2 separate regions of the Homo sapiens genome follow, and region 2 is linked to region 1. The links come from fine-mapping of genetic effects on gene expression. A gene starts in region 1. The other region holds a variant in brackets. All regions are shown on one strand. Distances are between the middles of the regions.

Region 1 (4,389 bases):
AATAATAATAATAATAATTAAAAAATAAAATAAAATACAATTTATGGCCTTGTTTCCAAGTGTTCAGAGTTCAAACAATAAACTTTTAAAACTTAATCCACTGGTAAATTGTTGGTTGGCTGCTTTAGAATTGAAACTGACCTTTTCAAATTGGAAAAGGGGACAGCAACAAAAAGGAACTCAGAAAATAATAATGGCTCATATTTTATAGCTGTTTGTGGTTTATAAAGTGGGTTTGTATTATTTCATTTGCCCTACCAACAGTCCTGTGAGGACTTACAGTATGAGGCTTCCCATAGCACAGATGAGCAAGAAAACCTCATTGACGAAAAGTTATTATACTATGTAGTATTTAGATTGGAGCAAAAGTAATAGCGTTTTTTGCCATTACTTTCAGTGGCAAAAACCACTATTACTTTTGCACCAAACTAACAGAACAAGAGCCATGCACAAGTTTTCATACACTGTTCACAACATCACATTTGGTCTGAGTGCTCACACACACACACACTAAATTACTGATGCAATATTTTAAGAAAATGTTAATTTTAATTTGCCCATAAAAGCAATAGAGAAAATATTCCCGGCCAGGCTAGGTGGCTGGCGCCTGTAATCCCAGCACTTTGGGAGGCCGAGGCAGGTGGATCACCTGAGGTCAGGAGTTCGAGACCAGCCTGGCCAACATGGCGAAACGTCGTCTCTACTAAAAATACAAAAATTTGCCCGGAGTGATGGTGGGCGCCTGTAATTCCAGCTACTCAGGAGGCTGAGGCAGGAGAATTGCTTGAACCCGGGAGGCAGAGGTTGCAGTGAGCCGAGATCGCGCCACTGCACTCCAGCCTCGGCGACAAAGGGAGACTTTTCAAGAAAAAAAAAAAAGAAGAAAAGAAAATATTCCCAGTCCAGGAAAGTACAGGAGGGTCTTTCCCAGGCCTTTTGTTGCCTCCATACCTCTGTGGTAGCTGTTCCCTGTTCCAGAATGTTCTAAGTAGGGAACAGTGGTCAGCTCAAAGCTGAAAACCATGGCCTGGCCCATGGTGGGAGGAGCAGTGTCTAGGAGAACAATTGGTCCTGGACTTTATGAAGGGTCTTAAAGTCAGACATTTGATATTGTGTATAAATGAGTGAGACCTATTTTCACAGGGATATACTAATAAGGTGAAGAAGTTGACATTCTTCATACAGCTTTAAACTTAGATCCCATTACTGTTCCACACTGGTCATAGCAATATTTTCTACAATCTTGCGAAAAGTACACTTATATTGCACTGTATTTTGTATGCTAAAAGTATTCATTTCCACATTTTTTATCACCCTGTTCTGCATGTTTTCACGTGTTACTCATTTTTCTATTCTTTTTCTGAATTCTCCCAGATCCTCGTTATGTTTTCACGTTTTAGTACACAAGGAACCTCAAAAGTTGAAAGTGTCCCAAGCCCTTGCCCACCTTTCAGCAAGCCTCTCTTTCTCCCTTTCCCAGGTGCTTTTCTTTCTGAAGATCTTTGTTATTATTTAACTCCTCTTTCGCAACACCACTGACATTGCACCGGCATCGCCGCGGGCCCACTGTCTGGCTTAGAAGGTGCTCAAGAAAGACCCGCGGCGAATGGAGAAGACAAGCCCAAAGCCAGGAAATGGGTGGCGGCTGCAGGGAAGGGGGTTTTGATTCCCTAGGATAAAAACGCGCTCCAACAGTCTCCGCATTCCGGCATGGAGCCGGCTGAGGGGTGCGGTGGTAAGACCCCATCGCTAGCGGAGTGCAAGCAAAGCCGCACACCTCCTGGGTCCGGGCTGGGGCAGGCCGCGCGGGCGCGGGAACGAACGCGTGCGGACGGGGAAAAGGGTCCTCCAAGCCCAAGTGGGAGCGCCGCGGAGGGCGAGCGAGCGGCAGGGCGCGGCGGGGCGTGTGCGGCACCACGGGACAGCGGGCTGCGGCCCAGGGGGCGAGGCGTGCTCGGGTCTATTCCGGGAGCGGCTCTGAGGGGCGGGCGCGGGCGCGGGCGGGGCGGGGGCTGCCGGCGAGCATCCTGTCTGGGGGAGGGGACCGCAGAGAGCGCCGGCCGCTGGGCTGGCCTGAGAGCGCAGCGCGCCGGCCGCTACCAGCCGCGCCGGAGCCCCTGCGCCCTGCGGCCCGCTCCCCGGGGACCGGGCCGGCGCCATGGACCGAGGCCAGGGTAAGAGGGGCCGCGACGCCCGCACTTGTTGCGGCGCCGGGCGGGAAAGGGAGACTGGACGATCTGAAGCCGGAGAGGAGGAGGGAGAGAGGCGGGCGGTGGGGCGGGGGCTGAGGAACGCTCGGAGGGGACTGGGAGACGCGGCGCTTATGCAAAGGTGCCTTCGGCTGCCGGGACAACCCGGTGCGTGTCAACGCCCGTGTCCTGGGGCCAACTCGCCTCTCGTGTGTGAAATCAGAGTTTTCATAGGCTAACGATTTGTAACTTCATAAAAGATCCCCCTCTAGTTTCCGGAGGACAGCGAGCTCCTCCCACCTCATTCCACTCTAAAGGGGAAAACAAGGTGTACAGGTTCAACTCCCGAAACACCCGCTGTGGGCAGCCCCTAGGGAGAAGCTCTAGGGGACCGAAGTTTGCAGCTGCCTAGGGCATTGCGAGAAGGAGGAGCGCCGTGAGCAGGCGCGCGTGTGCATGCATGTGTGCGCCAGGGAGGGAGGAGGCGGGGGTGGTTCTATCCCGCACCAGCTGTGTCCTCGGCCCAGCCCTTCTCTCTGGACCAGCGACAAAGTTGGACTAGATGGTCTCCAAGGCACCTTGCCGACCCTTTTCCAGTGTATTTGGTAGACGTTTCACAGAAGTGGAGGGGACTTACTGAAATTGAGATTGACATAAGCCGAGAGGGCAGCATTCGTAGGGGGCTAGCGCACATTTTTTTCTGTTTGTTTTGTTTTGTTTGAGACGGAGTTTCGCTCTTGTTGCCCAGGCTGGAGTGAAGTGGCGCGATCTTGGCTCACTGCAACCTCCGCCTCCCGGGTTCAAGCGATTCTCCTACCTCAGCCTCCCGAATAGCTGGGATTAGAGGCATGCGCCACCACACCCGGCTAATTTTTGTATTTTTAACAGAGACGGGGTTTCACCATATTGGCCAGGCTGGTCTGGAGCTCCTGACCTCAGGTGATCAGCCGGCCCCGGCCTCTCAAAGTGCTGGGATTACGGGCGTGAGCCACCGCGCCCGGCAGCGCACATTTTAAGTAAAGGTCTAGACATGGCCTTTGGCAATGGCCAGATGGGCATGTGTGTGTCTGTAAAGAAGTGGCCTGCTTGGACATGTGAACAGTGTCAGAGGCTGGGAATCAGAACCCCAGGGTTTCAGTCTGCACCTCTGGGATCCAAAGAGATCACAGGTGTGACGGCACTAGATAAACTAGTGAGTGCTGTGCCAACAGGCGAAGTGTTGTTGTTGTTGCTGTTATTAATAATGGAAAATTCATTCCCCTCCCCACGATAATCTCACACCTCTCCCCCATCTGCCTGTTTGCTGTGCTGAGCCCCCGAAGGGAGGAAAAAAAGAAGGGAACAGGGGCATGGGAGCAATTAGCAGGCACTGGGGCAGGGATGAGCCGGGAGCAGGTGTGGGGTAACCTCCCTTACTCCTGTTAAACGGAAAGTCAGGCTTGGCGAGCTCAGAGGGCCAGAGGGGACTCCTGGCTTCCAGTTCAACCTCCTCACTTGCCCCTCCCCAACAGAGAATACTGCATTCACCTTCTCCTTCAGGGACTGGGAAGGGCAGGCAGGAAAGAGAGTGGGCTTCTGTTTGGTTCTTTAGCAACTGAGGCCTAGATTTGTAAAGCAGTTCTCACCTGTTAACTGATTTCTAGGCAAGTGTGAAGAGTGTACATCAGGGAGGAAAAACAGAGAGAAGAGGCACCTCTCACACCCCTCAGTCCTGCTGTTCCCACCTCCTGCATAATGCGTCTAAAGCAAATACCACCATCCCCCCTCCCCTTCACACTCCTAGTCGCCCGCCACCTCCCCAACCTCTCCACCACCCCCACTCCCCACCAGTTTTTAAATACCAACCTGTCTGATCTCCAGTACAAAAATCCATACCTAGGCCTACCCAGGCCTGTGGAAAGTGCACTGTGTCATCCTAAGACAGAGTGACAATAGTTCACTTCACTTTAAATGCTTGGTAACCAACAACCTCCACGTCAGAAGGCTGCCTCCAGAGCACTCTTCCTAGGAAGTCAGACTTCCCAGGAATCCCTTGGTGCTGAGAGCCTAGGAGGGCTCTGACCTGCTCTCTCCCTGCAGGCTTTTCTAGCCTGCTATCTTTCTTTACACCTCTTGTCACAACTTTATAGACATAGTTATCTGACTCTTTAGTGTCGGCCTCCCTACCCAGAAGTAAGCTTCAGGAAGGCAAGGAGTGGAT
Region 2 (4,389 bases), 31 kb after region 1:
TTTGAAGAATTTGGTAAGTGACCCTCTCCCAACCTCAGCTACGGAGCCATCCCTCTTTCCCTGTGTATGCAGAAGGGTCCCCCGACTGGGCTGGGCTTGGCTCTAACATCGCATCATTAAGTCGCTTTGGGCCAGTCCTTGGCCCCTCTGGGTTCTGCCAGCTCTGAAAGTCTAATCAAAGTCTGCATAGGAATAGGAATTCAGCTCAGAGACTTGAGGAATGGTAGGGATGACCATGCAGTCCAAAGAAGGCATGGCACATTAGGGTGTTTCCTCACCGGCCACTCCCAGGTGATTGCCACTTGAGACACTGGGCTGAGCGATGCAGTGGCTCAGCAGAAATGATAGCTTGCATGGCTGCCACGGGCATGGGAGCAGCTGAGCTGGCTGCATGCAGAGTACCTGCCGTCCTAGCCCTATCCTGAGGGAAGACAGCTCTGTTCAACACAGAAAGAAAGCTACAGGCCTTGGTGAGAGAGTTTTGGGGACTCATAGACTTAGGGAGCACACTGTGCCTTTATAGCATAACCCTCAAAGATTTCCAAAGTACCAAAACAAGTATGATTTTATTTGATCCTCTCTACAATCCTGGAAAACAGACAAGGCAGGCATCATTGCCACCACGTACAGATGAGTTTCAGAGTCAAAAGTCATTTGTTTAGGGTTACTAACGGAGGGGTGGTGGAGCCCGACCTCACACTCAGGCCTCCTGACCCCAAATCCAGCCCTCTTCCCCTGGTCTGTGCTGCTCATCCTTGGCTTTCTTTGCCCAATGGCCTGTCCCTCTGTAGACTGTGACCTGAGTGACCTTCGGGACATGCCAGAGGATGATGGGGAGCCCAGCAAAGGAGCCAGCCCTGAGCTAGCCAAGAGCCCACGCCTGAGAAACGTGAGTCATGGCCTGGGTTCCCACACCTCAGGGCCTCTGTCCCTCTGGAGGAGGCAAGGGAAGCTCTCCCCTTCCCACTGGGTGCTCTCCTGGCGGTTCTGGACCCTGTTGTCTCTCTCGGGTTGTGGGTGAGGGCACAGGCAGCACCATGTGAACATTTCAATGGCCCGTGATGTGCTCGCTGTGTGTTTTTTTTCTTATTTATTTTTATTTTTATTCTTTATTTTGCCACCTTCCTGACTGGGAAGTCACAGTGTTTGTGCTGAGCAGGGAGAATGTGGTGAACTTACCTGTGCCCTCAGGCCCGAAGGACGTCACCAGCCCAACTTCCGATTGCATAACATAAGCCAGGCTATGGAAAAAGCTCTGGACCAGGAGTTGGGTGACCTCTGCCCACCCCCATGACTCTGCTGTGTAGCCTTAGGCGAGTCGCTTCTCTTCTCTGAGCCTGAGTTTGTCACCTACAGAATGAAAGACTGGACCAGATATAGGATGCGCAACCTTGGGGCCATGGAATTAGAGCAAGGGGCTCATAATCACAACAAGCTTTGTCTGTCAACTGCATAATTCATTGTCATCATCACCAGCAACAGTACCAGTCACTAGCAACTTACTATGTCCTTTACATGCTGACAGCAACTGAATGAGGCTGGCACAATTGTTATCCCCATTTTACAGATGAGGAAACTGAGGCTCAGAGAGAATGAGTGATATGACCCATGTCCCACAACTCACACGTGGCAGAACTTAGCTGTAAAGCCACGGTTCCCCTGGCCCAGTGGCTCAGCACTCAGCTGCGGGTGGTCCTGCCTCACTAAAGAACAGGCCTCACGCTTCCTTGTCCTACTGCACCTCGTGTGTGTGTAGACGTGGTTACAGAGTAGTGCAGAACTCACAGTAGCTTCTGGTAATTCTGCATGTGCTCAGTAAAAAGTATGACTACTACTGTTTGGCAGTCCACAAAACTTGCAGACATTCCAGGGGAACCCTGATGATTAAAAAAAATTGGGGTAAGAATCACTGGATAAATATGCCCTCGAGTTTTACCAGCTCTGTGGCTCTATAAAAGGTATGGCTTCACATTCACACTGCCTCCTGCCTTCTGCGAGCTCCTGCCTCCCTCTCCCTCAGCCTCTCTCTCCCTACCCTGCTCCGCTCCCCTAGCCCTCTTTTTTGTCCCCTTGCAGGCGGCCGACCTGCCTCCACCGCTCCCCAACAAGCCTCCCCCTGAGGACTACTATGAAGAGGCCCTTCCTCTGGGACCCGGCAAGTCGCCTGAGTACATCAGCTCCCACAGTAAGTTCTGGTCCTCTTGGTGGGGCTGGGGACTTCCTGTCCCTGAGAAGCCAAATTTAAGTTCCTCTGTGTCCTGTGGGAGCTGGAACTGCAAGCCT[G/C]TCACCCTCCCAACCATGTCACCATTGGCTTAGGAGAAGCTACCCTGGGCACCTGGCCTCTTCGGTGACAGCCTGGGTGGACCAATATGTGGGGCCCCAGGGGCTGGGGGCTTAGGTTCTAGTCCCAGATCTGTGTGGCCTTGGAAAATCCCCTTGCCCTCTGGATCTCTGTGCTTCCACCCTTAAAACAAGAAAGAGGAAGCAGACGCACCATGTCAGTGTGCTAGGAGGCAGCTACACAGATGACCACCACTATACTGTTCCCCCTACTAAAACTGCTAACCCAAGTGCTCCTCTTGAGTGGGTGGTGAAATTGTTTCAGTAGAATGACCTCCTATAGGTGGGTTAGGTTATCGAGTCAATGCGTAAAATAAAAAGCACGTGGTCTAAACCAGAGGCTGTCAGAGTAGAGTGGGGGTACCCAGGGGTTCATAACATGATGTAGGCAGAAATATCAGAAGCTTTACTTCTATTTAATTCAACATATCTTTTAATAAATTCCATGTGAATGTTTTGTAGCATTTATAATCTGATAATAGCATATTTGTAAAAAAAAGTTTATATATACATATATAACATAGAAAAATAAACATAAATATATGTATATATTTTTACTAGTAGGTGGGTGCAGTAAAATAATTTAGTGGGCACTGGTACAAGTTACCATTGAAAATCCCTTAAACTGGCCATAAAGGAGAGTCTTTGGTCTTTTCATCGGCTTCCTCCAGCATTGCAACACATGGACGTTCTTTTGAATGAAGAGATCAGATGAAGTCACTTGTTTGGGTAAAAGGACTTAACGTTACATATAAGAAACTACATCCTAATGTTTGGATGGCTCAGCATGAGTAGTTGAATTTGTATAAGATAATGTTTGTGTGATGCTGCTCTGTCATTCAGTAGCACAGTGGAATGCTCTCCAACCACCAAAAAATAATCAAATTTCTAAAATGAATTCTGATCAGCAAAGACAGATCGGTTTTATTATGTCATTGAAAATGTCAAACACAAAATACTGCATACAACAATTCCATTTGTTTTTTTAAATAGGGTGTACACAAACACACACACACACATGCATCCGTTTTAACAATTTTTCAAGGATATGCAAGGAACTATTAACAGGATTTTCCTGCGGGAAATTAATAGAAATATGGGTGAAGGGAACGTATTTTTTTCATTCATACTCTTTTCTATTACTGTTTGTGCTTTTTACCATGGGTGAATTTTTTTACTGTGGTAAAATACACGTAAGATTAACCATTTCCACCATTTCAAGCTGTCCAGCAAGTGGCATTTAGTACATTCAGTACATTCACAGTATTTGCAGCCATCACAACTATCTAGTCCCCAAACATTGTCATCACCCCAGAAGGAAGCCCATACCACTAAGCAGTCACTCCCCATTCCCCACCCCAGCCCCTGCTAACCACCAATTCACTTTCTGTCCATATGGATTTGCCTATTCTGGACATTTCACATAAATGGAGTCATATAATTTGTGGCCTTTTGTGTCTGGCTTCTTTCACTTAGCATGTTTTCTAGGTTCATCCATGTCGTAGCATGCCTCAGAACTTCTTTCCTTTCTATGGCTGAACACTATCCCACCATACGGATAGACCACATTGTGCTTATCCATTCCTCAGCTGATGGACCTTGGGCTGATTGCACCTTTTGGCTATGGTGCTTGGATCAGGTAATCCACAGCCCTCTTCAGCCTTGATAGTCTCAGGTTCTGTGTTATCGCAAACAGCTGTGGGGGTGTGAAACAGGCAACTTTATTTTATACACTCAAGGACAGGGAACAAAGTGCTGCTGGGCCTTGAATCCCAGGTCAAGCCTATTGGCTATATGGGGTTCCTTCACCTCCCCAGGGAACTCACTTCCCTCTCAGACAGGGCAGAGAAGACACCTCCCAGAAGCAGCTGGAATCCTGGGGCAGAAGGAAAGGGAGGGCTTCAGGAAGGGCCAGGAACCTTGTGCAGGGAGAGCACGCCAAGCCCATCAGGGAGTATCCTTCCTCTCGCTCACAGCGTCCAGCCCTGCCAGGTGTCTGAGTACTGTGTCCCCACGCCCCCTCACCCTTCCCTACTTCACACCTGACCC

Alleles and levels. Positions count from the first base shown, and alleles are read on the strand shown. Sizes are in standard deviations (SD) of each study's normalised expression.
With allele C in place of G in region 2, the expression in subcutaneous fat of the gene that starts at base 2,049 in region 1 is lower (moderate effect, 0.62 SD a copy in TwinsUK).

What was found. PIP is the estimated chance that this variant, and not a neighbour inherited with it, causes the effect. A credible set is the group of variants that fine-mapping cannot tell apart.
Region 2: its variant is the best candidate, but not a certain one, in a credible set for the expression of AFAP1L1 in subcutaneous fat (TwinsUK, PIP 0.73).

The regions. Positions count from the first base shown.
Region 1 is chr5:149,269,811-149,274,199 of GRCh38, forward strand. It overlaps AFAP1L1 (actin filament associated protein 1 like 1), which reads left to right and starts at 2,049. Exons shown (of 19, transcript NM_152406.4): 1 at 2,049-2,174. The coding sequence starts at 2,159. RefSeq lists enhancers at 2,028-2,567, 2,568-3,109, 3,110-3,649.
Region 2 is chr5:149,300,342-149,304,730 of GRCh38, forward strand. AFAP1L1 (actin filament associated protein 1 like 1) reads left to right here. Exons shown (of 19, transcript NM_152406.4): 3 at 1-13; 4 at 792-889; 5 at 2,077-2,185. Among named protein-coding and RNA genes, the nearest start is that of AFAP1L1, 31 kb to the left of the region's middle. The variant G/C (reference allele first, on the strand shown) is at 2,284.